Regions from separate parts of the Homo sapiens genome. Here regions 1 and 2 are each linked to region 3. The links come from fine-mapping of genetic effects on gene expression. A gene starts in region 3. Each other region holds a variant in brackets. All regions are shown on one strand. Distances are between the middles of the regions.

Region 1 (11,259 bases), 100 kb before region 3:
AAGGAGCCAGCAAGTCTAGACACATTCGAGAGCCATGAGCCCTGGATTCTATCCAAGCCACGAGGGGTTTTATGCCCTGAGCTTAGATTATGGCGCATCAGGGTAGCCTTCCACCCTTAGCACAGAGTTTGGTGTTCCAAAGGCCATGAGAGGTTTCAGACTCTGGACCTGGACATGTTCCAACACTCTTTTATGTTATGTCAGACATGCAAGCCCTGCTTCAGCTTCTCCCAGCACTCATCTTTTCCCAACAATTTTTGTATTTTTTGCGGAGACAGGGTTTTGCCATGTTGCCCAGGCTGGTCATGAACTCCCGAGCTCTAGCTATCCTCCCACCCTGGCTTCCCAAAGTGTTGGGATTAAGGTGTGAACCACCATGTCTGGTTTTTTTTTTTTTTTTGGCTTTTTTAATCAAAATGTCATTAAAGGCCAGGTGAGGTGGCTCATGCCTGTAATCCTAGCACTTTGGGAGGTTGAGGCAGGTGGAGTACCTGAGGTCAGCAGTTCGAGACCAGCCTAACCAACATGGAGAAACCCCGTCTCTACTAAAAATACAAAAAATTAGCTGGGTATGGTGGCACATGCCTGTAATCCCAGCTACTTGGGAGGCTGAGGCAGGAGAATCACTTGAACCCGGGAGGCGGAGGTTGCAGCGAGCTGAGATCGCGCCATTGCACTCCAGCCTGGGAAACAAGAGCGAAACTCCATCTCAAAAATAAATAAATAAATAAAATAAAAAGTTATTAAAGATTAATTTATATGGAATAGTTTACAGTACCCATTCTCAATTTTGCATTTCAGGGACTATTAAAGGGAAGAACAAAGGCCTCTGGAGGGGGGTGCTGGGAAGAGCAGATGCTCTGTGCCCTGGCAGTGAGTCCGGCTCCTTTAAGGAAGTACTAGAGACCTGCCAGGTGTCAGTTTATTTGATGGCAACTAAATGTTAAAAGCAAAGTCACAAAGAAGAAAGGAGGAGCATGGGCTTGGCAATTGGGAGCTGGGGATCCCTGGCAGGGAAGGTGGGAGAGCTATGAATGACTACACCATCTAAAATGAAGCATTTGTAAGTGTTGTGAGTAAAGCTAAGTAAATTTGGTGCTTCAGTCAATCCAAGGGATACCGAAGTAATTTTTTTTACATGTCTTTCTTCCTCAAATATAATGAGAAATCAATTAGGATTGGGATTGAGCCTCAGGTTTGTGAATATAGTAAATATTCAGTAGATATTTAATTGTTAATGGATGAATAGAGAAAACAAGGAAAGGAAGGAGGCAGAGAGTCAGAGAAGAGGAAGAGAGGAAAGAGGCCCAATTTAGCATTCAAATTGGAAGAGAAATTTGATTTTTTTTTAATTGGGAAGGTACTTTGAAATGTTGCTATCTTCTGAGGACTGAACATGTTTTTCTGCAGTGGTTCTTAAGTTTAATGCTTAGTTTGGTTTTAATAATCTTGTTTTCTTTGTTATTTTTATTATTTTTTTGAGACAGAGTCTTGCTCTGTTACCCAGGCTGGAGTGCAGTGGCGCCAGCTTGGCTCACTGCAACCTCTGCCTCCGGGGCTCAAAGAAACCCTCTCACCTCAGCCTCCCAAGTACTTTGAACCACAGGCATGTACCACCATAGCTGGCTAATTTTTTGTATTTTTTTTTTTGTAGAGATGGAGTTTTGCCATGTTGCCAGGCTAGTCTCGAACTCCTGGACTCAAGCCAACCACCTGCCTTGACCTCCCAAAGTTCTGAGATTACAGGCATGAGCCACCGTGCCCAGCCATAATCTTTTCTATTTAATTCATGTATCCATTTATTTCTATATATTCACATGTTTACTTATTTCTCTTCATTTATTTGTATGAATTTTCCAGAAAGTCACATTAGACATATACAAAATAGATATTTGTTTGAAAAGAATGCTATTTTTTGAGGTTTAATTCTGAGAGTAAACACTACTACTTAATGTATATAGCAGTGAGTGAGCAGACTGACTCAGCTATTCTTTTATTTTTTATTTTAACAGGTTTTGGGGAGCAGGTGGTGTTTGGTTACATGGATAAGTTTTTTAGTGGTGATTTCTTATATTTTTGTTGCACCCATCACCTGAGCAGTGTACACTGTACCCAATGTGTAATCTTTTATCTCTCACCCACCTCCCGCCCTTCCCTCCAAGTCCCCAAAATCCATTGTATCATTCCTATGTCTTTGTATTTTCATAGCTTAGCTCTCACTTATAAGTGAGAACATACAATGTTTTGTTTTCCATTCCTGAGACTCAGCTATTATGAATTCGGTTCTTTCAGCTATTTTATTGATGTAATATTCAATCTACCTCTGGGTTTCATTAATTACAATTTTAGTTTATAAAATGTGTTTTCCACTTCTAAGAACTCTTCTCAGATTGCTCATTTTTCTTTTTTCTCTTTCTTTCTTTTCTTTTTTTTTTTTTTTGACAGAGTTTTTGCTCTTGTTGCCCAGGCTGGAGTGCAGTGGCACGATCTTGGCTTACTCTTGGCTCACTGAAGCCTCTGCCTCCTGGGTTCAAGCAATTCTCCTGCCTCAGCCTCCCAAGTGGCTGAGATTACAGGCATGCGCCTCCACGCCTGGCTAATTTTGTATTTTTAGTAGAGACGAGGTTTCTCCATGTTTGTCAGGCTGGTCTCGAACTCCTGACCTCAGGTGATCTGCCTGTCTCTGCCTCCCAAAGTGCTGGGATTACAGGCATGAGCCATTGCACCCGGCCAGATTGCTCATTTTTCTTGGATGACCCACTTGTTTTATAGATGAAAGTTTTCAACAAACTTCACTGAAAATGTAAGTTAGATAACTGGTTTGTTTTTTGTCTTTTCTTTTGTTAGGTTGGTTTGTTTCCACCTGTTTCTTTCCTTTTTTTTTTTTTTTTTTTTTAGATGGAGTTTCACTGTTGTTGCCCAGGTTGGGGTGCAGTGGCACGATCTTGGCTCACTACAACTTCCACCTCCTGGGTTCAAGTGATTCTCCTGTCTCAGCCTCCTAAATAGCTGGGATTAAAGGCACCTGCCACCCCACCCAGCTAATTTTTTATATTTTTAGTAGAGATGGGGTTCCATCATGTTTGCCAGACTGATCTCAAACTGCTGACCTCAGGTGATCCACCTGCCTCAGCCTCCCAAAGTGTAGGAATTACAGGCCTGAGCCACCATGCTCGGCCTTCCACCTGTTTCTTGCATTAACATTTAATGAGGGGTATTTTTCTCTGAATACCCAGCCTATCTCTCCCACTGTCTTGAAATACGAAGGGTATTGTTTTTCTAGTTTGTCAATGATTTGCATAATTAATGTTTAATTGCTTTATTTTAGACAAAGAGACAAAAAAGGAGAATAATGAGAATTAGACTAAAGTTTATGTTTATTGAAAAATTTCTTTGACCACTTAGAGAGTTAACTGTTTTCATAGGATTGTGATTAAACACAGGGTGACAGTCAAAGTCACTATAGGGAAAAACTCTCCCACTGGAGGTCTGATTTGATAGTAAAGACAGCTTCTTATTACTGACTGCAAGGTACTCCCCTCATTATTGTTCTCTAGTTCTCTATTTCTATTTAAGAGGTCGACCCTTTTTCCTGGAGCCAATGTATTCACTGTTTGAGAAATTCCATGGTATCCCTTTGTAGGGGTGAAAGATTCCTTTTCCTCACTCATTGCTAGGTTCACGGCATCTACAATAAAACATAGATCAACAAGAGAATAGCATCCAAATTTATTTAATAGAAGTTACCTGAACAAACAGGCCTTGTTAAGTTCTACTCAGCTTATTACCATTAGATTATACCCTTTTGTTCTCCAGTCATACTTCTGCATAACTGTCCGTAGAAATACTCAGTTTTCCCTGCGTCTTCATTTCAGAAGGCTCTCTTGTCGTATAACATTTACATGCTTTTGTTTTGTTAATCTGTCTTTTGTTATAGGGGTCTCAGTCACGAACCTGGTGATGGGCAAGGAAAAGATACTACTTTTTCTCCCCTACGTTGGACAAGGAGGGTATGATCTAATGCTAATAAACTGGAGGGAGCTTAGCAAGACTAATTTGTTCAGATTCTTCTTGGCATCTCTGTATCTTCAAAGATAAGGAAGTTTCTTTCCTCTAGGAAACAATACTTCTAAAATAAGGGTCTTATGATCTGCTTCAGGGCAGAAAGACGGGGAAAGGTGTGAGAGTGAATTTCCTGATTCTGCTGTTTTCTCAAATGCCAAGAATCCATATTTTGGGGTTGCATGTCCTGAACCTCATACGCTGCTTTCCAAGCACTGCATTATAGGACTGAAACACTGATGAATGTTGAGATTAAGATCCACATTACCACTTTGCAACATGTCTACAAAAACTTAGTAAAACTTTTGTGGCAGCTTAAGTAAGGCGGGAAGCTCATTTATGTACTCTCTTGAGCTCTCTTCCATTTTGATAGGTGTTAGACTGTCAGAACTGCAGAGCCCTCATCATATAACAACTCCTCCCAAATCTCTGCACTAGAGACTTGGCAAACTCTAGCACGCCTTCTAGTAGCCTAAGGCAAGGTCCATAGGATGATTCAGCACTACTTAAAAGGCCAGCCTGAGGAAGCCCAATGCTGCTAGGAGAATTTACTTTTTGTTCCAGTTAAAACTTGTTAACAGGCCAGGTGTGGTGGCTCATGCGTGTAATCCCAGCACCTTGGGAGGCCGAGGCGGGCGGATCACGAGGTCAGGAGATCGAGACCATTCTGGTTAACACGATGAAACCCTGTCTCTACTAAAAATACAAAAAATTAGCCAGGCATGGTGGCGGGCGCCTGTAGTCCCAGCTACTTGGGAGGCTGAGGCAGGAGAATGGCGTGAACCCAGGAGGCAGAGCTTGCAGTGAGCCGAAATCGCGCCACTGCACTCCAGCGTGGGCAACAGAGCGAGACTCTGTCTCAAAACAACAACAACAACAAAAAACTTGGTAACAGATAGGCTCCTGAATTCCTTTTAGAGCAGTTACTTTAGAAATCTTACAGTTAGGCCAGGTGCAGTGGCTCACGCCTGTAATCCCAGCACTTTGGGAGGCCGAGGCAGGCGGATCACCAGAGGTCAGGGGTTCAAGACCAGCCTGACCAACATGGAGAAATGCTGTCTCTACTAAAAATACAAAATTAGCCTGGCGTGGTGGCACATGCCTGTAATCCCAGCTTACTCAGGAGGCTGAGGCAGGAGAATCGCTTGAACCCGGGAGGCGGAGGTTGTGGTGAGCCGAGATCGTGCCATTTGCACACCAGCCTGGGCAACAAGAGCGAAATTTCGTCTAAAAAAAAAAAAAGAAAGAAAAGAAAAATAAATCTTACAGTTAAATTCTTTCTCTGCCCTTTGAGAAGCAAATCTACCACACAGAACTGTTTCTTCAAGGACTTGGGAGCTGTTTCTTTGAAATGCAAACATTCAGGGAGATAAATCTTGCTCTTTCTTTCAGATGCAGCATAAGGACCAACTTAGCTGGGTGCTTCACTTCAACTATCACCATGTCCTTCTGTCATATAGATAGGCAAAGTTTCTCTGTCCTCTGGATAAGGGCCAATTAACAAATCCAGAGAGTCTAGTCACATTAACTTTCCTTAACACCACTCAGTATCTTTTCCTTAGCAAACTCCACTTTAAAATGTCATCAGCTTTACTTTTGGGGAAGTTGAGTTCAGTTAATGCTGCACTGGTTCCTGTTGCAATAGTATTACTGAATAAAACCTGTCCTCACCACATTAACTAGTATCCAGATTTGTTGATCCTTGACAACACTCAGATGTCTCCTGCACTCTACTGGCTTCAAGGTCGGATAAATGAGTTGAACACCTCTTCAGTTTCCAGCAATGTTAGGTGTTTTCTATATTTCTTTGATTTGATCATTACTATGGAAACTGGAAGAGAGGGAAAAAAAATCAAACATCTAACATAATATTTCAGTCCCAACACCTTCCATAAGCTGTTCCTTGCAATATAAGTGTATGGAATGATGAAAGAGGCAGTGTAGCGTAACAGAAAAGACCACGAGTTTTGCAGCAAGAGTCAGCTTTGATTTGATTCCTTGCTCTAAATTTTTAAAATTAGCTTCTTAAACCTGAGAAAGAGGCTAAATTTTCTGTCTCATTTTTTCATTTGAAAATAGAAATAATAATGCCTACTATATAGACTTGGAAAAGTGAGATTGAACAAGAAAATATGTACAACATGTGGTACTTAGCTCATAGTAATTGTTCAATAAATGTTATTTTGTGTTAATATCTGATAATTCCCAAAGAGATTTGTTTTCTCTGTCTGTTGTTACAACAATGCATCTCCTCATGCCATCCCTCATTTACCTATCTATATATTTCCTTTATTAAGCAATGAGTTTCTTCATAGGTATCATTTTTCCTTGTATTGTAAGCTCCTACCAATTGAAAAGGTGGGCATCCAGTACCTGTTTATGTAATTTAAAAAATACATGAATAAATACATGAACAAAGTTATGGTAAACTTGGAGCACCAAAACTGAAATAGTTTGCATCGGTTAAATTAATTAATGTCAGACTTAGTTGTGAGAGTAATGAAGGCAGCATAAGACATTAATGTATGCATTTTTCTTACATTTGGTCTGAAACAAAGACTCATCTGCTATGCTGCCTTTTAGTTTTCCTGAGTCAGCAGTCTCAGAAACAGGATCTAAAGGTACAAATGGAAAATTACCACAGCATAGTTTCATTTCCTGCTCTTGAATATCTGGTTGAACTACTTAAGCTTAATTTGTTAAACTCCGGTAAGTACCTAGCCCACATGATTTGACTCAGAGATTCTCTTTTGTCCACAG[ACAGT/T]CATCTCAGGAGCAGAAAGAAAAGAGCTCCCAAATGCTATATCTATTCAGGGGCTCTCAAGAACAATGGAATATCATCCTGATTTAGAAAATTTGGATGAAGATGGATATACTCAATTACACTTCGACTCTCAAAGCAATACCAGGATAGCTGTTGTTTCAGAGAAAGGTATATATATGTTTTTTCTAATGTGTGCCTTTAGCTCTCCCGTTTGAAAAGATATAAGGGGAGGCTAGGCATGGTGGCTCACACCTGTAATCCCAGCACTTTGGGAGGCCGAGGCGGGTGGATTGACTGAGGTCAGGAGTTCGAGGCCAGCTTGGCTAACGTGGTGAAACTCTGTCTCTACTAAAAATACAAAAATTAGCCGGGCATGGTGGTGCACGCCTGTAGTTCCAGGTACTTGGGAGGCTGAGGCAGGAGAATCACTTGAACCTGGGAGGTGGAGGTTGCAGTGAGCCAAGATCATGCCAATGCACTCCAGCCTGGGTGGCAGAGCAAGACTCCATCTCTGAAAAAAAATAAAAATAAAAACAAAACAAAAAGATATAAGGGGAGAAAATTTGAGAGCCTCGTGATGTGTATATTTTTATGGATATACTTTTAAAGGCTTCAGATGTCACTGAAGATAAATTGAATGCACCCTAAACCTTTTTTCATGAAAATTATTCAGTGACCAATTATTAGTGTTTAAATTAATTATGTCTGATGGCAGAAAATAGAATTTCTCTTTTCTATAGATATAGACATTTCATCAGTGAGGAATTGGTAATAAGTGGGATAATACACAAAGATAAAGGATTTCTGTATGAGTGACTTGTTGCTTGTTTGATAGAAAGGCTAGATTATCGAATGGAGGCCAGGAAACTTAAAGAAGTATATATATGAACAACATTTTTTTTTTGTGGTAAGAGATTAATTTAAATTGTTTTTAAACAAAAAACAATTATTGGTATACCAGTGATGGAAAATATATGAACATATGGTAGATAAAAACATCCCACCAGCAGGACATGAGTCTTAAACAAAGTGTAAATGAAATGAAATAGAAAGAAGGGCATTGGAGGATCTCTGTATTCATAGAATGGGTGATTTAGCCTACTCTACGATTCTCCTATGTGACAATTCTATGAAATGTCCTGACAGCTTAGTCACAGTGGAAAGCAGAAATACATTCTGGTTATGGCAATGTTCATACAAAATTAGTTCCCTATTATCTTTGAGAGAGAGAGATCATTTGTCGGTTTTGACACCAGAGTTTGCTTTCTTCTGCTTTCTGGTTATTCACACTGCACAAATATTTTCCTCTCAGCACTGATGTAATTCTTTTCTTGGGCAACCTATTGAGGAAGCGTGGAAAAAGTGGATGAGGCAAGAGGTAGGGAGACATGCGCATGTTTATGCATATGTGTAGGCAAACGGTATCCTGCAACAACACACCTATCATGTGCTAGCAGTCTCTAAACAAGGTGCTTTTATATGTGTTAGCTCGTTTAATTCCCGCAATAATCCTTTGAGATATTATTACCCCAGTTTCACAAAGAGGAATAAAAAACAACAAAGGGAGTAATTTGCCCAGGGTCATGCAACAAACATATGAAAAGGGAAAATTACCCTTAGTAATCAGTGCTATCTCCCCAACATTAAGCTATTTCCTCTAAGAATCAGTGGGATTTCAGGGATCCTACTAATGTCAAGACCTGTAGATGTCAATGTGGAACTGAAATTAGGAGCATACAGTTATCAAGCCAATGTGCCGAAATTACAATTCCAGCAATTGAAGAAGAAGGTATCCTTACTGGTGGAGAAGCACAGCAAATCCTAGGTGACCAGGTAACCTAGGCAGTGATTAATAATTCACTTAAAAATTTGCCAGTATTTTTTGTTGTTGTTGTTGGTGGTGTGTGTGTGTGTGTGTGTGTGTGTGTGTGTGTGTGTGTTTTAACAGGGTATCACTTTTTTGCCTATGCTGCTCTGGAATTCCTAGGCTCAAGTGATCCTCCTGCCACAGCCTCCAGAGTAGCTGGGACTACGGGAGCTCACCACAATGCCCAGCTAATTAAATTTTTTTTCTTTCTTTGTTTTTCTTTTTTTTTTTTGGTAGGGACAGGGTCTCCCTGTGTTGCCCAGGCTGGTCTTGAGCTTCTGGCCTCAAGCAATCCTCCTACCTCAGTCTCCCTTCTGGGATTACAGGTGTGAGCCACCGTGCAAGGCCAGATTTTTGATGAACTGTAGAATTAAACTGCCCCACCATCCGTCATTCTCTTTCTTTATTCCATTTCTGCCCCCTCTGGCTCCTCAGGATCGTGTGCTGCATCTCCTCCTTGGCGCCTCATTGCTGTAATTTTGGGAATCCTATGCTTGGTAATACTGGTGATAGCTGTGGTCCTGGGTACCATGGGTGAGTATTTGGTGGAGGAGATTAACAACAGACAATTTAGTAAGCAATTATTATGTGCCAGGCACTCTTTTAAGGGCTTGACATGCATAATCTACTTTAATTTGTATATAATCTGGTTTTATCTGTATTGGGTTGGTGCTGTTAATGCCCATTTCACTTATAAAGGGTGTGAGAGACTGAGAGGTTATTTTACCTTTCCAGGGTTATAAGCTAGTTAGTGGTGGGACCATGATTAGAAATTTGGGTGATCTGTCTAAAAAACTCATACTCTTAACTACATTGCTCTCCTACCTCCCTTACATAGCTGGTTTCAAAGCTGTGGAATTCAAAGGATAAATTAATGAAGAAAACAAGCGGAGCTGAAGAAGAAAGTACAATATGGTGCTGTCTTCCTAATGAAATAAATTCACTAAATGGACATTAAGCTATTTTTATGATTCACATTATTTAAGGAAATTATTTCCGATCTTTAATATAAACACCTTTGAATACACCAGAAATTTCCTGAGGCACTTGGTCTTAAGTCGATATTTTGTAATGGATTAATATTTTTTTTACATTTTATATCACATGCAATCTGTTGTCAGTCACCTTCAGAGAGTCTTCATGACATTCCTTAATTAGTCAAATGTTTATTGAGTGCGTTCTATGTTATAGGTACTGGGCAGTTTCTCAAGGATCTCTCATTTTTAAATAACAGAAGAAAGGTGAAAGATGTTGCTATTTCAAATCTGTCATGGGTCCAATTGACTCTATGACATTTGCCTCTTGCTGCCTCCCTCATTCTATTTCTTCTTCTCCACCTTCTTTTTTCTTTTCTTTTTTTTTTTTTACTATACCTCCTTTATAAAAGTTATGTATTTCTTTTCATCTATTCTATCAATCGTCTTTATCTCTCCACAGCAATATATCATCTATTTATCATTAATCAATAATGTATTCTTTTATTCCAATAACATTTGGGTTTTGGGATTTTAATTTTCAAACACAGCAGAATGACATTTTTTCTGTCACTATTATTATTGTTGGTATGTGAAGCTATTTGGAGATCCAATTCAGGAAGCAACACATTGGAGAATGGCTACTTTCTATCAAGAAATAAAGAGAACCACAGTCAACCCACACAATCATCTTTAGAAGACAGTGTGACTCCTACCAAAGCTGTCAAAACCACAGGCAAGGGCATAGTTAAAGGACGGAATCTTGACTCAAGAGGGTTAATTCTTGGTGCTGAAGCCTGGGGCAGGGGTGTAAAGAAAAACACTTAGATTCAATGATTGTAAATTTAAGGCAAATACACATATTAGTATTACCTTAGTGTAATGTATCCCTGTCATATATACAATAAGGTGAAATTATAAGTACCCTATGCAGTTGGCTGGACAGTTCTAAATTGGACTTTATTAATTTTTAAAATCAGTAACTGATTTATCACTGGCTATGTGCTTAGATCTACAGGAGATCATATAATTTGATACAAATAAAAGAAAAGTGTTCTCTCCCCTTACAGAATTGACATTTTAAATGCGATACAGTTAGAATAGGAAATATGACATTAGAAAGGAAGAATGACAGGGAGAAAGGAAAGAAGGGAAAATGTTGCCAAGAATAAGGAAGCTATATTAAAAATATACAAAAGAGGTAGACCTAATACACATGTCCCTGAAAACTCATCAAATTTGTTTAATCATACAATTTCATTTACTTAATTACAATTCTATACACACTTGACTTTTACTTCTAATTGCATCATAATTGACTATGACTTAATGTTTTCAGTTCAATTTTTCATCTCTGGACCCATACCTTCTCACTATTTTTATTAAGTAGCTAATAATATATAACAGAGATAGTGTATAATATGAATAATTGGCCTATACTTTTCTCACTTGGAAAGTCACATTATGAAGTAGATCTTACATCATAAAATAAGTAGCAATATGAAATTGCTGTGTACCTCAATGACTGATTGTGAGTGGACTTATTTTAAGGAGTTATTAAGGAGAAAGGTAGTTTTGAGCTGAATTAGAAG
Region 2 (11,259 bases), 29 kb before region 3:
TTCACTTGTTAAGATATTGGTAAACTAGGTTTTATGCTAATTAAACATTTCATTTAGCAGATACTTGTATTTTTCAAGACCTATTTATTTCATGGCACCACTTCAGTTTTTATACTTCTGTTTTTTCTTGATAATTACAAGATTATTATAGGTTACTATATTTGCCTACAGCATTGAAAATAATACATTTAAAACATATCTGCAACTATAATATATGTATATCTTGAAGTGGATTATCATGCTACAAAATAGTATTCTCCTTATTCCCTCCTCTTTTTAATTAACCAAGGACATAGAACAAACATATTCTTCTCGATTTCAGAAAACCATCCTGTTTTTATGTTTTCCCATTAAAAAGAAAACAAAAAATACAGATTCCAACTTTGTTTCTTTTAAACCTTTATTTTTACAATTATACTGCTGTTATAGAATATTAAGGAATTTTGTCTTATGAGAATGAGGGATTTCTTTTAATAAGTAAAATGATATTTTCAGAATAACATGAGACCACAAAACAGTGTTTACCATTTCTTCTTTGCTCTCTATTTGTAGCAGCGTGGAACCTTCCTTTAAACAATTCTCTTGACTGGTGTGCCAAATGCTCCAAATTTCAGAGACATAGTAACAACTTTCTCTGTTCTGAATCCAATTGTTTGGACAAGGACTGCTGTTATGGGCTTTGAATATAAACATTTTACTTTAGTATCTTATTGTAAAATATTAACAACATATATCCCTCCAAAAAGCCCCTTGCCTCACCCTCAGTGAGGCTGAATCTCATAACGTAATGGTCCACATGATGTAGCACTTACCAATTTCAGCTTCTCTGAGGCTCAATATAGTAAGATTCATGTAATAATTTCTATCTGCAATGGGCCTTTAACTTAAATATGAAATTAATTTTGGGATATATTTAACTAAATTTTTTCTCTTCTATAATAATCTGATTATTCCAGTTTTATCAATCTTTCCTTTCTTTGAATTCACATCATTTATTGTCTTCACTTGTTTGCTTATTGTTTCATGTCTGTTAGTCTTACTGCCCCAATTTAGCCAGAAATGTACTGGACCATTGGATGGATTGAATAATAAGCCCTGAATTTATGTTTAAATTCTGAGAGCTAAACAAGGAAATATTTTATAGATAATGGAGAGAACAAGTAGTCTGCCTTAAGGAGTGATTTGAAAACATGCAGGTGAGGAAAATTGGAGAAGAACATAAATGAACAATATGCTTAGTTTAGGACTCTGATACAACTAAGAAGTAAGCCTTAATGTTTAATCAGTTTTATGGAACCTGTTTTAAGATGGAATATAGTCACAAAAGAAGGATGGTCAAATGTGTAAAAGGGGAACCAAAGACCAAGAATTTGACCAAGTGTTTCTGGCACAGGTTTATAGAAGGAAAGACACTGAAACTTCCACAACTCTGGTTTCTAGACAGTCCCTGTATTTAGGCCAAGAAATAATTCATCAGTAGCTTCCATGGGCCAGATGTTAAGTTGTTTAAAGCTCTTCAATATCTTTTGTTTGAAATCCCTGCCAACCAATATCCTGAACATTGCTATAGTATAAATAGTGTAGACAATGGTATTGGTGGCGTTGAAGAACATGTTGGACTTGTACGTCTCCAAAATGGATATTGTTATTCTATTCAAGGTTGATGGCTCAGAGGTGGGCCTCACCCGAGTTTGCAATGGCCTGCTGCATAGAGAAACATGGTTGGGCACACAGTGATCCTTCAAACACTCGATTAAATTTTAATCAGAAGGAACTATGGTTGATGTTTGACTTCTCTCATTGGCAATTATGTAAATGGTATCCAGTCTAGGAAAGTTAATTCTCTAAACTATATGTACAAGCATTATGAAATGCCAAGCATAGAATACATGGCAAACTATATGACAGGTAGAAATAGACTCTGCATTAGGTTTAAAATGCTTGTAAAGCATATAAAAGATTAAACTGCAGTAACTTCATAGAATTTTAAAAAAGAGCTAGGTCCTGCATCGTAAAAGAATTTTGTGGTAAATACTCTCATTTTCAAAATGAATTTTTTTGCTCAAAGCTATCTAAACTTGAATCTAAAACAATATCTAAACTAAATATATTGGGAAATTTGGAGCTAGAACTAAAACATCCTTACAAATTTGAATGGCTGGATAAAACGATTTTTTTTTGTGCATGTATTTTTTTAATCTGACCTACTAATTGCACACACACCTCTTTGGCATTTGACTGTACATTTCCTTTAGTTGCATTCTTTTGGATCCCTAGTGTTTCCACGTAGTATTGGATGTTATAAATAAGATTGAACTGAAGAGTGACCAAAATTATGTCACTCTTATTATAAAATCCTAACAGTTTTGCAGAGAACAAAATGTGTGTCACTGTTTCTTTTGAGGTATTGGTGTATATATTTAGATGTATACAGTGGAAACTGATTTTTATCCATTACCTGAACTTAATGAGTTTTGCATGAAGGCTTGGCAATATTTCATCTGAAGGGCACAGCTTCTCTTCCATTCTGTAAAGTTTAGCAGTGCCCTCTCTTGTTGGATGAGTTTTTCTTGCTGCTGCATCGCAATGGTGGACACCTGCAACACTTCACATGATAGCAATCATTCCTAATAAAATCCTGACATTTTATAGCAAAATAATCCTTCAACACAGACTAAAGACAAGTACAAATTACTATTATTTTTGAGACTTGAATTTGTATTATTTTAGGTTTTTGCTTAAAATTTACATTGTACAAGAATCAAACACTACAAAAGACGTGGAACAAAATGTCTCTTTGCACCCATTTTTAATTTGCTTGATTTACTACCCCCAAACAACCAGATTTACCAATTTATATTTTATTATTTGGGAGCTTTTGAATATTACACATAAGATAAAACAAAAAGAAACTTTACAAATGAAGGCAAATGAATATAAAACTCGCTCTCTCCCCTTAACACAAATGGTAACAATATATTTACATGGTTTTGCACCTTTTGTTTTATCATTAACATGCATATTTGAACTCAGTTCCATATCAGTACATAGACATGCAAAATTTAGTTCAATAGCACAACCAGGATATTGACATTGATACAATCAAGATACTCGGCTCCTCCACTACCATCAGGATCTGTCCTTGCCCTTTTATAAGTACACCCACTTCCCTCTTGCCTTCACCCCTTGTTCACTCCTGGCAATCACTAATTTGTGTTCCTTTTCTATTTTATCACATAAATGACATATAAATGCTATCTTACAGTATGTAACCTTTTGCTATTTGCTTTGTTCACTCAGAATAATCCTCTGGAGACTCATGCAGATTGTTGTTTAAATAAATAGTTCACCTATTTTGTATTGTTGAGTAGAATTCCATGATATGAATTACCACTACTAGTTTAACTGTTCATCCACTGAAGGACATCCAGGTAGTTTTCAGGTTTTAGTCATTACAAATAGAGCTACTATAAGCACTCATGTACAGGTTTTTGTGTGAACATAAATTTTCATTTCTATGAGGTATACGCTCAAGAGTGCAATTGTTGTGTTTTAAGGAAGTGTGAAGTTTAGATTTTTAAGAAACTGCTACGCTATTTTCCAGAGTGGCTACAGCATATTACATTTCCACCAGGAATGAGTGAGTGATCCGCTTTCTCTGCAGCTTGACAAGCATTTGATGTTGTCACTTATTGTTATTTTAGCCATGCTGATTATGTATGTAGTAATATCTCACTGTAGTTTTAATTTACATTTCCTTAATGGCTAATGACATTGAACATCTTTTCTTGTGCTTATTTGACATCTGTATATTCTCTCTGGTGAAACGTCTTTTCATGTCTTTTTGCCATTTTCTCGTTGGATGGTCTAGTTTTTTACTAACTAGAGAGTTCTTTGTACATTCTAGGTTCTAATCCTTTGTCAGATATTGATTTACAACTATTTATTCCCAGTCTGTAACTTGGCTTTTATTTACTTATTTATTTTTGTAGAGATGGGGTCTCACCTTCTTGCTCAGGATGGTCTTGAACTCCTGGGCTCAAGGAATCCCAAAGTGCTGGGATTATAGGCATGAGCCACCACACCTGGCCTGTAACAAGTCTTTTTACCCTCTTCCTAGTGTCTTTTGCAGAGTATGTATGTTTTATTTTGATGAGGTCCATCCAACTTACCAGCTTTTCCTTTCATTAACCATTTTTTAATGTAAGTCTAAGAATTATTTGCCTACCTTTAGATTCTGAAGATTTTGTCCTATGTTTTCTGAAAGTTTGACAGTTTTATGCTCTACTTTTAAGACTGTGGTCTATTTTGAGTTAACTTTTAATTTTTGTGTAAGGTTGAAGACTTAGGCTTATTTTCTTTTTCTTTTTTTCTTTCCTATGGATGTCTAATTTCTCCAGCACCATTTGTTGAAAAGGCTATCCTCCTTCTTTCAATTGATTTGCACTGCTGACAAAATCATTTGGGTATATTTGTATGAGTCTGTTTCTGGATTCTTTATTGTATTTTATATCTGTCTTTTTGTCGACTAATACACCTAGCTTTAATTCATACAGGTTTTGAAATCAGGCAAATTGATTCTACTCAGTTATATAATTGGTTTAAAATAAGTTTATGATATGTTAATCATTATTAGATTGTGGTTATTGAATAGACATATTGTATAGAGAGAATGGCATCAAGAAAAATTAATTAGTGAATTAAAAAAAACAAATAAAAACACCTATGCGTGTCAGCCAGACCTTTAGGATTAAAAATCCTCTTTTAGAGAGAAATAGAACAACAAAAGAGGAGAACAAATGGGCAAATCTGTAAAATTATTTTCATATTTTTAACCACAAAACGGAGGTAACCACGATCACACAGAAAAATCATCTGACCAAGACAGGCTGGGCGTGGTGGCTCTCGCCTGTACTCCCAGCACTTTGGGAGGCTGAGGGGGGTGGCTCACTTGAGGTCAGGAGTTCGAGACCACCATGGCCAACATGGCAAAGCCTTGTCTCTACTAAGAATACAAAAATTAGCTGGGTGTGGTGGTGTGCGCATGTAATCCCAGCTACTCAGGAAGCTGAGACAGGAGAGGCACTTGAACCCAGAAGGCAGAGGTTGCAGTGAGGTGAGATCATAACCCTGCACTCTGCACTCCGCACTCCGGCCTGGGCAACAGAGCAAGAAAAGAAAAAGAAAACATTTACATATCTACATATTCTGATCTGTTTTACTTATCAACATTGCTGCTGAGAAGAAAATGCCAGAAATCAAAAGCCATGGACTAGAGAAAGCAGATGT[G/T]TATGCCCTGTCCATCGGTGGATAGTTAACAAAAACCCAGGCTGTCAGCTGCTTGGATCTTTTTCTCTCTTTCTAGCAAAATGATGGATCTAACCAGAGTCAAGTGTAGAACAGTGATGCTCTGATTTTTATCCTATTAATAATCTGGCATGTTTAGACTTTGAAAAATAATAATTTTCTTCTTAGATTCAACATATAATTCTAAAATTTTATATTTAGATACCTTTTTAGATTAGCTATATCATAGAAGCTGTTGTTTATTACTGTCTGAACAGCGTATACTATATGAAACTGTAATAAAACTGGAGAAAGGGAAATGAGACTTCTCTTCAGAGTTTTACCCTAAATGGGAAGCAAAATATAGCACCTTTATTGGGGTTGAAGTTGTAATAAATCTGCAATGAGGAATAAAGACAAAACAATATAATTACCTGGGGAAAAAAAACAAAATACTTTTAACGTCCCCCAAATAAAATTATTTGTTATATGATATCATACATTATACCTAATTGATGAATTAAGAAAATGAACAGTAAAAACAAATTAAAAAGCTGATTTGTTAGAAAATATTTTGAACTATAGATTTTTTAATACAAAAATTAATGGCATAAATAATGTGGTAGAAAAATTAGAAAATGTGAAATAGTAGGAAGAAAATTAAAGTTAAGTCTACTTACTTTGAGAACTACCACTCAAATAATGGCCATTAGTATTTGGTTTATATCTATTGAAACTCTTTTCTATGTATGTATATAGAAAAGTATTTTATATACAACCTTTAGAAAACCATATTTTTATATAAATGTCTTTTTAGAAATCTGCTTCTTTCGTGAGAAAATATTGCATAACCATATTCCCAAAACAATAACAATGGTTCTAGAAGAATTCTTTAAATAATGGCATTGTGTTCTTTTATATAAATATGACATAATTAATTTTACCAGTCCTTCTATTGTCAGGTACTGGCCTTTAGTTATATATATGAGCAATTTGTAATTAGCACTTTCATTATGTTCATGTTATGATACTTTTAAATAAAAGGTTATAGTTTTCATTTACTACTTTTTGTCAGACACATGGTCCTATTTAAAAAATATATATGTATATAATTTAAATATGTTTTCATATTTGTCTTGCAATGCAAGTTTTCATAAAGAAAATTGGATGTAACATTTTAATTTAAAATGGAACATAATCAAAATGGAATATTTATTAAAAAATAAACATGACTTTTGTAACTCAAAGCCTACTGGCTATAACATAATCTGTAACTAGCTGGGACAAGTAATTAGTTATTGAACAGAATGTTTCACATGAAGAAGCTGCTTATTGCTTAACACAACAGTTTTATTATGGTAACTGGTTTTATTTTTTTAAAGCCTTAAGTGTTAAAAATGTATAAGAAGACCTAGGCAAATTATAAATTTAAAAACAACAACAATAAAAATTAATAGTCACTAGAACAAAAGCTAAAGGAAAATATACTTTACGCCTGTACAGTGATATTTAAGTTTTGTAAGTATATATTTTTAGCTCGTAAGACAAAATTTAAAAAGCAAAAACTTTTATTTGTAAGAATTTTCTAGAAATTACTGGAAGTCTTAGGCACATGGTTTTCTAGCTATGTTTCTTTTATCCTCATTAAAGTAACATTTTCTTCATACAATTTGTGTTTGGGGAGTTAACATTTTTTAAATATATACTACATTCATAGGATTAAAACATTTAAAAAAATCCGAAAAGTAAACATTGAAATATATTTTTCTCCTCATCGTCACTATTTATCTCACTTCTCTTGCCCTCACTTTTAGTATTTCTTATATAACCTTCCATTGTTTGTTTAAATTCAAGAAAATGTTCATTCTTAATCAAATTGTAACATAGCATATACATTTAAAAAATAATTTCAGCTTTTATTTAGATTCAGGGGGTACATGTGCAGGTTTGTTACTCAGGTACATGATGCTGATGTTTGGGGTACAATTGATCTCATCAGCCAGGTTTTAAATGCTGCTTTTTTGCACTTTACATACAGAAGTGTTTCTTCTTTCTTTTGTTGTTCTTGCTTCAAGGTATTCTATTGTATAGATGATGTACCATTATTTATTAACATGGTCTCTTATCAATGTGGTGGGTATTTGAGGCTTTTCCCCTATTGTTAAATTGCAGGTTTATCTATAGGTACAATTTCCAAAAGTAGTACTGCTGGGTCACAGTTAATACAGTTTAAAATAATTCACTATCTTAGGAACATGATTTATAGGTTTCATATAAGATTTCGTTTACTAGATGGAGAAGACACTTAGGTATACACTGAACAGCAAATCTTTTGACAACATGGAAAATGTAGAGTGTATCTTTTTTTTTTTTTTTTTTTTTTTTTTGAGACAGAGTCTCACTCTGTCACCCAGGCTGGAGTGCAGTGGTACAATCTTGGCTCACTGCAACCTCCACCTCCCTGGTTCAAGCAATTCCCCTTCCTCAGCCTCCGGAGTAGCTAGGATTACAGGCGCACCCCACCACTCCCGGCTAATTTTTTTGCATTTTTAGTAGAGATGATGTTTCACCATGTTGGCCAGACTGGTCTTGAACTCCTGACCTCAGGCAATCCGCCCACCTCGGCCTCCCAAAGTGCTGGGATTACAGGCATGAGCCACCACGCCTGGCCTAAAGTGTACTTTTATAATCATCCTTATTATGTAGTATATGATTTTTGTCTATATAGTAGACAAAATATTTGGCAATTGGAGACTATAGATTTATGTTTATATAAAAACCAAATTATATATCCCATTCACTTGACAACAGTGCTTCAAGATGTTGCATCTTCAGTTAATTTTGTTTGTAATTGGAAATGATTTTATATGTTAAGTTTTAAAATCTTATTACCCCAAATCATTATCATTTGTAAAATAACATTGAAATTCATTATATAGAATTAACATTTAAAGAATATTTTTTGATATTTGCAATGCAAGTTAAATATGGATTCTTCTATTGTAGAGTTACAATGAAGTTTGGCAATGTGTCATTTAAAGTCCTCAATTTTTACAGAAGAAGGTGGATTATTAGATGTTAATTGACTGAACTGGTCTTTTAAATATAAATTGTTTCCACAGGTATTTAATATGTGTGCTTCTTAAAAAGCGAACTCACATTTGTCTAAAATATGTATTTTTTAATAAGACCCAAAGAGAGTAGATAGAGAAAAAGAAAGCTGTCTTGAAGTTCTAACATTTCTGTTAAGCTGTGAAACTTTATTTGAGGAGACAGACGAAGTAACAATTACTGATTAAGCTCTTGGCAATTCTTAAAACGTTCCTCTAAAAACCAGCAGAAAATGAAGCTCATGACATTACCTAAGCAAGGTCAAACTTCCTATACTTTGTGAATGCGAATCTGAACCTTTCCCTTCCTTATTCTCAGAGTTCATAATTCTTCCTCTCCAGCTGATGTCTTTTAGATAGAGATATGATTTGCAAAGGCATATAAGAAAGAAACATCTACATTTTTCTTAGTGGTAGCATGAGTGATGTTAGAGGTTCATTGTTCTTTTTCTGGAATCTGAAGCTCTGTAATTATTATATTTTATAAAAATTTCACTTGCCAAACATAAAAGTATGTCTTCTATTTGGACTAAAAAGCAATGTGGTTAAATGTGGTCGAACGAAGCTCTCAGGTTTGCATTAAACATTTTAAATTGAAACTTGCCTAATATAAATAATCTTTAAAAGTCAAATTTAATTTAAATGTATATTAGAAACAGAAAAGCAGAATGTGAAATCTTTCAAATTGCATGCTTTAGCATGTTAACATGACTCACAAATGGAATCAGAATATGTTATTATTTTCATTGTTTCTCCCAGAGACCTATAGCACATGATTTGAGTTAAAAAACATGCAATAGATCATTGAAAGTTATCAGTGGCATCCAAGTGCTCAGAGAGTTCTATCAAATGATTGAAATTTGAGGCCATTATTTTATATCATTTATGTGCATTCACATATGAATTGATTTTCCATCCATTTATAAATTATGAAGTTTTATATATAACGATATACATATTTTGAAAATATCTTTTAGTACTTACACTTGACGCCCAAGAAAATGGATGCTGTTAATAATCCCATGCAGAAAACACATGAAATCACCATCACAAGACAGCATGCTCCTAACCACAGAATAGGAAAAATGATACCGAGTTAGAGAAAGCAGATAAAAAAGACGGGGCAAGGATAGATTGAGATTGAGTAAAAGAAGGAATTAACATTGGCATTTCTACTGAGAGTTGTTGGGGCCTGGGATGTGTAAAAGAAAAGGAAAAAGAGAACCTTTGCTCAAATGCACTGAAATACAACTCATAACTTGGAATATATGTGATATGGATACTGCCAAATTAAGTAGATTTAATAGTATACTTCTGTTATCCTTATCTTTGATGTCACACCTTAAACAAACTAATTATATGTATTCTTTTCCAACAATCTTTTAGAGATTCCCCCAAGCCAAATGCTGGCTTTATGTTTTGAGATAAAAAATGCTGTCTCACATCTCCCCATCTCTTCAGTGTTACTTGAACATGATTAAAGAAAAGAAAGATACACATTTTAAATATATACTTTTAAATATACATTTTTTGGAAGACGAACAAGTTTTCCAAGGTAACTTTACAACCCTGCAGAGAGGAAAAAAAAAAGGAATATGTGATTTTTTGTATTCAAAACACTAATCAGAGAAAAATAGTTAAAATTTATCTTTGAATATTGTGATAGGCAGAGAAATGCCCCTGCCTAACATGCCAGTGTCATAATTCCTGGGACTTGTGAGTTACCTTATGTGGAAAAGGGACTTTGAAGAAGTCATTAAGTTAAGGATTTGGGATGGGAAGATTAGCCTGAATTATCTGGATCCCTTTTAAATGAGAGGTAGGATATTGGAGGGACAGAGCATGGCATGATAATGGAGGCTGAGAAACATTTAAAGAGGTTATGTTGTTGGCTTTCAAGACAGAAGAAGGGTCCATGAGCCAAGGAAAGCAATAAATCCAGCTCTAGAAACCAGAAAAGACAAGGGATAGAGTCTTCCACTCGATCCCTGCCAACACCTTGGTTTCAGCCCATTGAAATCCATTTCAGCTTGTGACATCTAGAGCCCTAAGATAATAAATTTACGTTCTGTTAATCCCCTAAGTCTGTGTGATTGGTTACACCAGCAGACAGGAATTAACATAGATATTAAACGATACAGACAGAACTAATCACTATAGCCAACAACTCTAGGCCAATGAGATCTTGCCAGTTTTTCAACCTATGTTTTCTCTTTTTTATTTCTTAGTATTTATCAGATAATTTGCAGAATGTTTTAGTAGGAGTTCAATTAATTGAAGTTGTATTTTTTTCACGTATTTCCCAAATCTAGGTATTGCTTTTCTTTTCTAGAGAGGCAGAGGAAAAAATAGTTCCGCACGTTTATCACGTGTATTGCTCTCTTTATTTTTCACCGTTACTTAATCCTTCTCCACTTCATTAGCATTTCACGGACATTACAGTACCCTTAGGTAGATTATCTCGGATTAGAATAAACATCTTGGCCTCATGATAGAGCAGAAAAAAAAAAAAAACATGAACTCTAAAGTCTCACACAAAATAGTTAGAACTGGTTACCTGAACATTTGTTGGAAGACAGACATTTCTGGTAAGTGTCTGGTGCTGGGCTATCCCACTGAAGAGAGGTGTATATTTCTTCCTCGTGCATGTCTAAGGTGCTTTGATAGGAAAGCAGTCCACACAGGAGGCTGGAACAAGTAACTCCTCTTGTGGTTTGGAGCAGGTTGGTGTAAGAACTGAAATTGGTTACATTTTCACAGTAGTGGGAAAATATGTTTGTGTTTAAGGAGTAGAATAGATGCACCTTCATTCAGAAAGTGGAAGTTTATGAAGTCTAAGCCAAAACACAACTTGGTGAAAAAG
Region 3 (11,259 bases):
TGATTCTTCCAGTACACCAAGGTAAGAACCCTGGGATGCAGAAAGCCTCTGTCCTTGCTATAAGGTAGGGGTCTAATTGAGCTGACTAACACAAGCCACCTATGGACGGCTAAACTAAAAGAGCACCCTGTAACACACGCCCACTGGGGCTTCAGATACAAACATTTACTCCTAGACACTACCGTGGGGCCGGAGCCCCACAGCCTGCCCCTCCCCTAGAGGTCTGAGTAGCGGGGCACTGAAGAAGCGAGCCATACCTCCATTGCACACTCTGCTAGGGGGACAAGAGAACTTTTCCCATTTCATATGTTTATTGATCACTGTGGAAGTCCCAGGCATGTTTCTATTTTCTGGGGACTAATCGTTAATGAATCATACAAGCAATGAGCTTGTATTATAGTAAAGGGTGGGGAGCACAGATAGTAAAGAAACATAGAAAGCAAAGACCAATATAATTTTACATCGAAAGCAAAGATCAACATAATTTTACATCATGAAAAGTGCTACAAATGAAGAAAAGTGATATAATTGAGTTCTTCCAGACAGGCTGGAGGCAGACCCTGGTTGGGCTCATGAGAATTGGTTTGTTTAAGCTTCACTGTCAGTGCTTGGGCAATGTCCCAGCTTTCTTCCTTTTTTTAAGATAATCCAGAATAATCCAAACTTACTTCCACTATGACAGCTGCCATTTATTGCTCTTTCTATATGCTTTTATCAGTTACATTTGTGGTAGGCATTAAACTTATGACAAATTTACTGCTAAGAAAAATAAAGCACAGAGGCTCAGTAACTTGCCAAAAGCCACAGGGCAAGTAAGTGTTGATCCAGGATTTGAATCAATCAGCCTGTCTTCACAGTGCTTCATTTTAATTCAGACATTTTATTATCCTGGTCAGGCATACTCACCTAATTGGGTGACTATATTAATACATTTAAAAATAAATTCCATCCTATATCCATCCTCTGTCTCCTCCTTGTGGCCATTTATTTTTCTTCTGCTTTTAGTTTATTTTTGTTTCCCTTATGCCTTTGATAACTCTGGCTTTCATCTTCATTTTTCCCTATTTCTTTTTTTGTAAATAATTCTGAATTAATTGTCATTCTGGCCATTCTCTGGGTACTATCCAATTTAGGCCCCACTTTAAAAGTGTCCTCTGAAACAGGCATAAGATGTGAGAATGGAAAGACTGTTAAAGAACAGAGTGAGAATGAATCCTCCTATCATGTTAACTCAGCATTTCTTTTAAGGTATTCTCAATCAACAATACTTCCATAATTAATAACTGTGCTTCCATATTTTCCAAGGTGAACAATATTTTCTGACATGTTTAATTCATGTGAGAGCAGCAAGAAAAGTCAAAGGTGATTCCAAGTTTTTGGCAGAGGAACCGTAGGTATGGAATATTCATTTATCGAGATGGAGAAACTCATTGGGAAGAGTCACTCATTTTTTGATGTGTTAAGTTAAAAAATCCTAAAATATATCAAAGTCAATATGCCAAGAATCCAGTCAGATATGTGGTTCTGGAGATCAAGCAATGGTATGGAAATATAATTTTGGACATTATCAATGTATGGCTATTAAGTCATGAGGTTACAAGAGATTAATTCCCATTCTGGCCATTCTATGGGTACTATCCAATTTAGTTCATCCCAGGATAAATTAAAAAAAAAACAAGAGGACCAAGAACTGAATTCTGGGACACAACAACATTTTAAATTAATTTAAGGAGGAATCCAAATCTGAGGGAGGATTGGGTTGTGAATGAAGCAAAAGGAAATTGAAGAGAACGGTGTCCTAGGGAACACTGTATTTTAGAGAAGAATGTATGTTATGAAAAGGGAATAATCTTTTTTTTTTTTGAATGCTTATCTGGTGCGTGAGATGAATTCTGAGAACTAGCCATTAGATGTGTTCATGTGGAGGTTAATGGTGACTTTGACTGGAGTGTTTTCATAGAAATAGTGAAGGAAAAAGCCTAATTAACATAAAGGAAAAGTAGGATGAAACAGTAAGCACAGAGAGATTTTTGAACATTTTTGTTGTCAAGAAAATTAGAGAAATGTTAAGAAGAAATATAAGAAAATTAGAATCGTGTGTATGGGGGCATGGTAAACAAAAGATGGCTTTTGCTTGTTTTTAACATAGGAGATATTATACCATGTTGGGAGGTGAAGGTGAGTGAACAAGTGGAGATGAAAAGAAATTGATAGTGCCAGAGCGAACCAAAGAAAGAAAATTACAAGCTTGAAATCCCTATTGGCCGGGCGCGGTGGCTCACACCTGTAATCCCAGCTCGTTGGGAGGCCGAAGCGGGCGGATCACGAGGTTAGGAGATCGAGACCATCCTGGCTAACACGGTGAAACCCCATCTCTACTAAAAATAAAAAAAAATTAGCCAGGCTTGGTGGCGGGTGCCTTTAGTCCCAGCTACTCGAGAGGCTGAGGCGGAAGAATGGCGTGAACCCGGGAGGCGGAGATTGCAGTGAGCCGAGATTGCGCCACTGCAGTCCAGCCTGGGTGACAAAGCGAGACTCCGTCTCAAAAAAAAAAAAAAAAAAAGAAATCCCTAAGGAGGTAGGTGGATGGATTTTAATATACAGATGGAGATTGAGCATAGATTATGTTACGGGATCTTTGGGATGTTGATTTTCTGTTCAGAAACCTGTGTGGCTGTGGCGTCTTTGCCCGAGTTCTTGTCCTGCGTCTATGGTTGCTAGATTGTATGTTAATATTATACTTAGCTCTGTAAGAAACTGCCACACTGCCTTCCAAAGTGGCTATGCCTTTTTACCTCTCACCAGCGGTGAATGAATGCTCCTGTTGCTCCACATCCTTGCCAGCATTGGATGTTGTGAGTATTTTGGATTTTAGTCATTCAAATAGTATACAGTGGTTTCTCATTGTTGTTTTAATTTGCAATTCCCTCCTAAGGTATGACATTGAGCATCTGCAACACTGAACTTAGCTCTCCAAACAAGGCTCAGCCTTGTCTGCATTCCTTTCCCTACCCTCACTTCCCCTTCTACTTGGAATGTTATTTGTAGCATTTGTTTGTCTCCTGTAACCCTGCCAATCCTTCCCAATCCTCAGAGCCTTCACTGACAGCATCGGGCGGCTCACTCGTTCCTGCTGCCATAGTAATTTGTGCGTAACTTTTCTTGAGATTTATCACATCCTGTTATTATATGCTGTTTCTTCTACCGACATTGGTTGCTACTCCCATTTCTCAACCTCCTGGCTTCAAGCAATCCTCCCACCTTGGCCTTCCAAAATGCTGGGATTACAGGTGTAACTAACTGCACCTGGTCTTGCTACTCCCGTTTCTAAATAAAATTTCAATCTGAGTAAAAACTAAAGCCAATTTCTTCCCAAAATGGTGGGGGGCACTGGACACAATATCGAAGACCATTAGCACAATCAGTAGCACCAGACAATGAGTCAGCAGAGTCACTAAAGCCTCAGGCCACGAGTTAGAAGACACTTCACAGATTAAAGGAAATCAACAGAGGAGTAAGAAATAACCAGGGATGGCCTCCTGGAGATTTCGTGTTTGACTCCCTTTCCCTCTCTATCTCTAAAGAGAAAGTGCAGAGGGCATTTTAGACTGAGGGATCAGTAGGAGCAAGAGTAAGGAAGCTACCTGATTTACAGAGGCTGTCTACTGCCTGCAGTATCAGGCCATTGAAATACACTTAACGTCTTTCCACCAGCGGCTCCAGCCTTCCCCTCCACTTGCATCTTCCCTCATCCATCTCTGCAGATGATACATACTCCCACATATCATTCATTATTTCTTAAATATATCAGCTCACACCTTCATATTATTTTACATTTCTTCAGAATCTTTCCTAACCTAGAATGCCCTTTCCCCTTTCTCCTTTAATCATGCCTTTCTTATAAAGTAGGTTCAGATGACCTTCTCTGTCAGCATCATCTGTAATGACATACCTTCCACCCTACTGCCAGTGGTTCTTACCTCTTCTGCAGAGAGTATCATCAGTTTGAATCATTTAGATCTTGGCTAACATGGGAATCTTTACCATTGTGTGGATCAAATACCCAGATCTTGATAAGAAAAATAAAAATGCTATTGTCACATAAATGGCTGGGTTTAATCATCTGTGGGCCTTAGAGTATGTTTTCTTCAGGACAAGGTAGGCCGTTGTGCTTCACAAGAGCTTGCGAGTTATTTGAGAAGAATCAAAACATGTTGCCAGTCTAGCAGAAAAGCATTTCAACTTCACCACAGATTGCCACAGCCGGGTACAAACGGAAGTCCCGCCCCCTTCCAGGTTGTTGGGGTGGGAGCTGCCGGATGAGCTGCTGCGGCCCTCGGGGCGCAGGACCACACCATCTGCGCAGCCTGCACCCTCGCGGCCCGGTAAACTTGACAGTTTCTTATAGAGGTAAGTATAGTATTAACAGACAATCTAGGAACCATAGAAAGTGGAAAACCTGTACACACTGCTGAGACCAGCTCGGTCTGGGAGACCCTAACCCAGAGGCGCTAGAGGAATTAAAGACACACACAGAAATATAGAGGTGTGAAGTGGGAAATGAGGGGTCTCACAGCCTTCACAGCCGAGAGCCCCGAACAGAGATTTACCCACGTATTTATTAGCAGCAAGCCAGTCATTAGCATGGTTTCTGTAGATATTAGGTTAACTGAAAGTATCCCTTATGGGAAACAAAGGGATGGGCCGAATTAAAGAAATAGGTTGGGCTAGTTAACTGCAGCGGGAACATGCCCTTAAGGCATAAATTGCTCATGCTATTGTTTGTGGCTTAAGAATGTCTTTAAGTGGTTTTCCACCCTGGGCGGGCCAGCTGCTCCTTGCCCTCATTCCCGTAAACCCACCACCTTCCAGCATGGGTGTTAGGGCCATCATGAACATGTCACAGTGCTGCAGAGATTTTGTTTATGGCCAGTTTTGGGGCCAGTTTATGGCCGGATTTTGGGGGGCTTGCTCCCAACACACACAAAAACTGGCACACACATTTTCACAGGAGCTTTATTCATAATTGCCAGACATTAGAAGTAATTATGATGTCTTTCAAAAGATGAGTGGATAAACAAACTGTGGTACATTCATGCAATGGAGTATCATTCGACAACAAAATGAAATGTTGTCAAACTATGAAAAACATGGAGGAATCTTAAATGCATATTACTACGTGAAAGAAGCCGGTTTGAAAAGCTATCATATTATCCTAGCTATATGACATTCGAGAAAAACCAAGACAAAGAAAACAAAGAGATCAGTTGTGACCAATGATTCAGGGGAAGAGGAAGATTGATAGGAAGGGGGAAGATTGCTGAGTAGGTAGGGCACAGGGGATTTTTGTCTGCAAAAATGTACACCCATGTACATAAGCAGGGCTCTGAATTTTTTAAACTTTTCAAATTTTGTGGCAGGGCCTATTGAATGGGTTGAGGGAGACCTTCCTGATTGATACCTACTAATGTATATACAAATTTGAGACAGATATTTTGAGGGAGAGTGGAATTCAGGTACAACATACCTATTACCCCAGAAAGGTGTCAAGTGGAAGTAAAAAAAAAAAAAAAGAGGTGTGTGAGGTAAAAAATTAAATTAAATTCTAAATGAGGACATGGAGGTTCTTGTGGAAAGTTTTTTCTTGTATATATATATATATATATATATATATATATATATATATATATATACACACACACACACACACACACTATGTTTTCTTTATCCACTTGTTCATCAATGAAATGAACATTTAGCTTGTTTTCATATTTTGGCTATTGTGAACATGGGAGGAAATGAGATATTTGTAAGACTAACTCAAACATTGCATTAAATGGTCCATATTTAATATAAAGAAATCAAGATAATTAATATATACGTCTGGCTTTTCAGATAATGGATGTAAGCCCTGTCCTGAAAGGTGGCAATGGAGCAAAAGACCAGTAATATAAAATAATTCAGGAATCCATAACATGGCAAGACAGCAAGGATAAAAATTTTTAGAGGATCTCTAAAATTTCTACCTTACTCAATATAGAGAATAAGGAATTGGTAAATATGCAGGTCTCCTGTCTTTTGTTAAAATTTACAGAGGTGAGGTGAGAAGGTAAGGGTAAGTTAAAAAAATTATTGAGTACCTAATAATAAAATACTATGCTCTCAGGCGAGTCTATAAATGATCACATTTAATTCTTCCTTTGTGTGCAAACAACAGCCTTACAAGTCTGGTAATATCATTCCTAATTTTTAGATATGAAACCTAGGCTTTAGAGGATAAGAAACTTGATTTAGATCACACAGCCTGGTTTTGCATATTGAATAGGATAACAAAAAGAGACAGAGGAAATATATACTTCCTCATTTAAATACTTATTTTTGTCTTTCATTATTGAATTCCAAATCTAACACATCATTCTGGAAAAGAGAATCTAGGGAAATAATAGTGTACAAGAAGAAGAAAATAAAATATAAACCAAAAAAGAGAATAATTTAAAAAATACATCGTATCTTGAATTTATAATTGTTCTAAGGTGGATACATTGTTATTGTATAAAGTTAAGGTTTACACAACAACTCACCTGCCTTCTGACAATTCTGACAATCAAATGCAATACTTTGGAAAGTTTTAGGAGAGCACGTTTCATTAGGGAATCAAATTTTCAGTCTAGGTAAATGAAAAGTATGCTGAAAGAAGAGAATGTACGACTGATCCGGGGAAGAAGCTTTAAAAAGTAAACACTTAATGAGATTTTTATTTATATTGGATTTAATAGAGTTTGGAGGCAGAGGAAAAGGCAGGATAAGAAAACAACTTCCTAACTTGTGCATTTTTTTTCAATGTCCATCCACAGCACAGAAGCCGTGGTGGTGTCATGGAATATTGTCAATTTCGGTTACATTTCATCATGGTCAAGTCAACTCCAGGAGGCAGCATCATGGACGATTTGGCTTATGTTCTGCTTTTGTCTTCTACAGAACCTTGTGTCTCACTGTTGTCTCCTTCCTGGCTGGGGTTATCACATGGCATATCCAACTGTGAGTGTGGGAAGATGGCATAATCCTCTGACTGTGTCAGAGTCTTAGGAAATTGTGACTGTTATAAGATGGCACAATCTCTTCCCTGATGTGTGTCAAGTTCTTAGAAAATTGTGGTGAGCTATTCCTTTTTCTTTTGGCAGGTTTTTGTCTTGGTGTTTACCAAGTGATCCGAGATAGAGAGAGGGAAAGAGGAGAGAGAGAGAGGGAGAGAAGGAGAGAGAGCGGGGGAGAGAGAGAGAGAGAAAGAGAGACAGAGAGAGACAGCGAGATGGGGAAAAAGAGAAAGGGAGAGAGAGGAGACAGGGAGAGAGGGACAGAAAGAAACGGAAGGAAAGAAGGAAGGAGGAAGGGAGGGAGGGAGGGAGGGAAGGCAGGCAGGCAGGCAGGCAGGCAGTTTTATTGCATGATCTGTGCCCTTAACCACAATGATTTGCTTCCATGGAATGAATTTCCTATTTAGCCCTCTGATTACCTAGAGGTAACCTCATACAGATGATCTATAATGAAAGTGATTGGAATACAGTAAGCTTATTTTTTTGCCAGGATTATAATACCTGGTATGATACTAGTTTACATCTCTTACAAACTACCTAAGACTAAATTTATAAGTTCTGGTCTATTATTAAGTGAGGTCTATGCAATTTCAAATACTGGGAAAATGCATGTACTGAAATATGCATTACTAGAAAATTAAAAATTACTCATTTTAAAAAATGAGTTGGAATTCCTGTTAGAATTCTTATAACCAGCATGCCCTTATATCCCTTAGGAGACATTTTTTGGTAATTTCCATTCCTTTTATGATTAAAAATGTAGGTTTTTTTTTTGTCTACTGTATTAGTCTGTTCTCATGCTGCTTAGAAAGACATACCCGAGACTGGATAATTTATAAAGGAAAGAGGTTTAATTGACTCACAGTTCCACATGGCTGGGGAGGCCTCACAATCATGGTGGAAGGCAAAGGAGAAGCAAAGTCATGTCTTGCATGGTGGCAGGGGAACTCTCCTTTGTAAAACCATCAGAACTCATGAGACTTATTCACTATCAGGAGAACAGCACAGAAAAAACTCGCCCCCATGATTCTATTACCTCTCACCAGGTCCTTCCCATGACACGTGGAGATTCTGGGAGCTATAATTCAAGATGAGATTTGGATGGGGACACAGCCAAACCATATCAGCTATGCGAATCTATAATTTTCTCTTTTTAAATTTTTTATTTACTTTAAGTCCTGGGATACATGTGCAGAACCTGCAGGTTTGTTACATAGGTATACATGTGCCATGGTGGTTTGCTGCACCTATCAACCTGTCATCTAGGTTTTAAGCCCCGCATGCATTAGGTATTTGTCCTAATGCTCTCCCTCCCCTTGCCCCTCATCCCCTCAACAGGCCCCAGTGTGTGATGTTCCCCTCCCTGTGTCCATGTATTCTCATTGTTCAACTCCCACTTATGAGTGAGAATATGCAGTGTTTGCTTTTCAGTTCCTGTGTTAGTTTGCTGAGAATGATAGTTTCCAGCTTCGTCCATGTCCCTGCAAAGGACATGAACTTATTCTTTTTTATGGCTGCATAGTATTCCATGGTGTATATGTGCCACATTTTCTTTACCCAGTCTACCATTGGTGGACATTTGGGTTGGTTCCAAAGTTTTGCTATTGTAAATAGTGCTGCAATAATTTTCTCTTAAAGTCTGCTTTCTCTTCTAGCAAAAGAGCCAGAGGAAAAGCTATACTTATACTTCACCAGCCTCCAAAATTCCCAAAGTTAAGACACAGACTTAAGGACTGCCATAAGCTACATTTCTGTCAACTGAATTATAATCCTATTGTCTTCTAACAGGAATATAGGAAAGAAATAAAGATAAATGTTAATTCTGTAACATAGTCATGTAAACATAGCCTGCAACATATACAACTTTCTTTTGCTCCTATGATAAATTCAAATGTGCAATATACCACAAATGGGGGCCTAGATCTGAGGAATCAAGCTTTCATAGAGCAATAAAAGCGTTTATTTTGTTCATTTCTAACTAACAACCTAAAATATAAAGTTCTTAGAAACAAATAGTTTAAATTAATAAAATGAATATGCCACATTTTATTTTTATTCTATTCACATGTCAATGGACATTGAGGTTGCTTTCGTGTGTTGGCTATTGTGTACAGTGCTGCAATAAACATAGGAGTTCAGGCATCTCTTTGAAATTGCAATTTCAATTTCTTTGGATATATACCCAGTCATGGGATTGCTAGGTCATATGGTACATGCCATGGAATATTATTTAGCCTTAAAAAAGAAAGAAATCCTGCCATTGCAGCAACATGAATAAATACGGAGGATGTTATGCTAAGTGAAACAAGCCAGATACAGAAGGACAAATGCTGCATGATACCATTTATATGAGGAACTTCAAATAACCAAACTCATAGAAGCAGATAGTAGAATGGTGGTTGCCAGGGGTTACAGGAGAGGGAAATGAGGAGGTATTAGCCAAAGGGTAGAAAGTTCAGTTACACAAGATGAATAAGTCCTACAGATCTACTGTACAGCGTAGTGCCTATAGACAACAATACTATATTGTATATTTAGAATTTTCTAAGAGTGTAAATCTTACGTTGTGTTTTTATCACACAAAAATATTAACAATAAAGAGGGTGGGAGGACTTTTCAAGATAATGCCTATGTTTATGGTATACATTGTGGTGATGGTTTATTCATGTGTGTATACTTATCTACAAATATTAAGTTGCATATATTACGTATGTACAGCTTTTACATGTCAATTATACCCAATAAAGTGGTTTTTAAAGAAGAAATGTTTATGAATGAGGCAGGCAAGTAGGGATGGCATGCCTAGTGGCTTCAAATCAGTCAACATCAGACCAGCAACAGGGGCTATGGGGGGAGATAGCAATACATAAGGCAAGAAAATTGCTGAGGACGGATTTAATTAGGAAAAGTAATAAAATGTATACTTAAAACAAGATGACACCTGGGGTGGGGTCACCATTTATGGGAAGTGTCATTGCATACCATCTTCTGTGTTCTGATAGCATGCTGAAATCTATTATTTATTATATATAATAAATCTATATTCTGTTGCATTGCATTGTCTCACAGCTATGATTCTGTGAAAAGATAATAGGGCTCTGGCATGTATTGGACCTGGTTCAGAACCTAACTTCACCCTTTCCGGCTGTAAAACCTTAGCCAAGCTTTGTTCTAAATCAAGCTTTAGTTTCCACATGTATGGAATGATCTCAGATGAGATCACATATTGAATTTGTCAAGTTCCTGCCATGTTAGGGCCATCTTAAAAATTGTAGGCCCCTTTGCCCCTAGCTTTGAGCTTATTGTGGTTAAGGGTCCTGTCATGCTGATCTTCATATCTATCCCAAGGGTTTGCATATCGACTAGCACTTGGTTGACACACACACAAAATCTATTGTTAAATAAGTGAATAATTTGCAGCTGCCAGTCGCACCTGTCGAAATATCAGTTGTGCATTTGGTAGACCCAGATAAAGAGAGACCAGAAATCTGGTTTTCAGTCCAATTCACCTTCCTGGGACTCATTTCCCACCCTCCTTGATGCATTTTTTGGCTCTGTAAGTTTTGAGAGGTATTCCTTCCCAACTTGTCCTATTTAGACACAAAAGAGCTTCAAAATAAAGACAGAAACAATCAAATACTGTCTTCTTGCACTGGAAATTGAAGGTCAGTACTTGAAGAACAAGAGAGAATGGAGCCCCCTAGAAATTACTCTACTCAAAATACAACTTACAGATCATATGGGCTGGACAAGATTGGTGAAGCCAACATCAATTCACCCATAGAGAGTAATTTTTCTCAGAAACAAATTCTGTCTAGAAACAAAGAAAGCTGGAGAACTGAAAATAATGGCCTTGGTAACTATAACAGTAACAATTAGTGTTTCCCTACAATTTCCAGTGCTATGCTAAGGAATCAAAAAGGTGAAAGGGTCTGGACCCTATCCTTGTCCACCTCGTTTCTGGCCTCCACATCACAAAGGGCACAGAAGATACAAAAATAGTCCATGGGCAATATAGTGCCTGTCTCAGGTAATTACCTAGGGCTACCTGCCATCTACTATTCACCCTGTTGCTCCCCTCCATGATTTCTCTTCCCTGATGAGCTGATGCTCAGCCGCTGAACCAACTTTCATTATTGTGTTTGTATTTAAAAACTGTTGCCTT

What was found.
Region 1: its variant is fine-mapped to the expression of CLEC9A in whole blood (TOPMed, PIP above 0.99).
Region 2: its variant is fine-mapped to the expression of CLEC9A in whole blood (TOPMed, PIP 0.96).

Annotation. Positions count from the first base shown.
Region 1 is chr12:10,125,715-10,136,973 of GRCh38, reverse strand. It overlaps CLEC7A (C-type lectin domain containing 7A), which reads left to right and starts at 6,775. Exons shown (of 6, transcript NM_197947.3): 1 at 6,775-6,994; 2 at 9,129-9,227; 3 at 10,266-10,403. The coding sequence starts at 6,892. It overlaps LOC105369655 (a long non-coding RNA gene), which reads right to left. Exons shown (of 4, transcript XR_007063208.1): 2 at 5,734-5,893; 3 at 5,182-5,289; 4 at 3,360-3,688. RefSeq lists an enhancer at 2,416-3,236. The variant ACAGT/T (reference allele first, on the strand shown) is at 6,823.
Region 2 is chr12:10,052,473-10,063,731 of GRCh38, reverse strand. CLEC9A (C-type lectin domain containing 9A) reads right to left here. Exons shown (of 9, transcript NM_207345.4): 4 at 10,954-11,102; 5 at 9,381-9,461; 6 at 2,459-2,605; 7 at 526-677. The coding sequence starts at 11,044. Among named protein-coding and RNA genes, the nearest start is that of CLEC9A, 27 kb to the right of the region's middle. The variant G/T (reference allele first, on the strand shown) is at 5,290.
Region 3 is chr12:10,023,694-10,034,952 of GRCh38, reverse strand. CLEC9A (C-type lectin domain containing 9A) reads right to left here and starts at 4,271. Exons shown (of 9, transcript NM_207345.4): 1 at 3,981-4,271. LOC102724020 (a long non-coding RNA gene) reads left to right here and starts at 4,330. Exons shown (of 4, transcript NR_169587.1): 1 at 4,330-4,410; 2 at 6,979-7,154.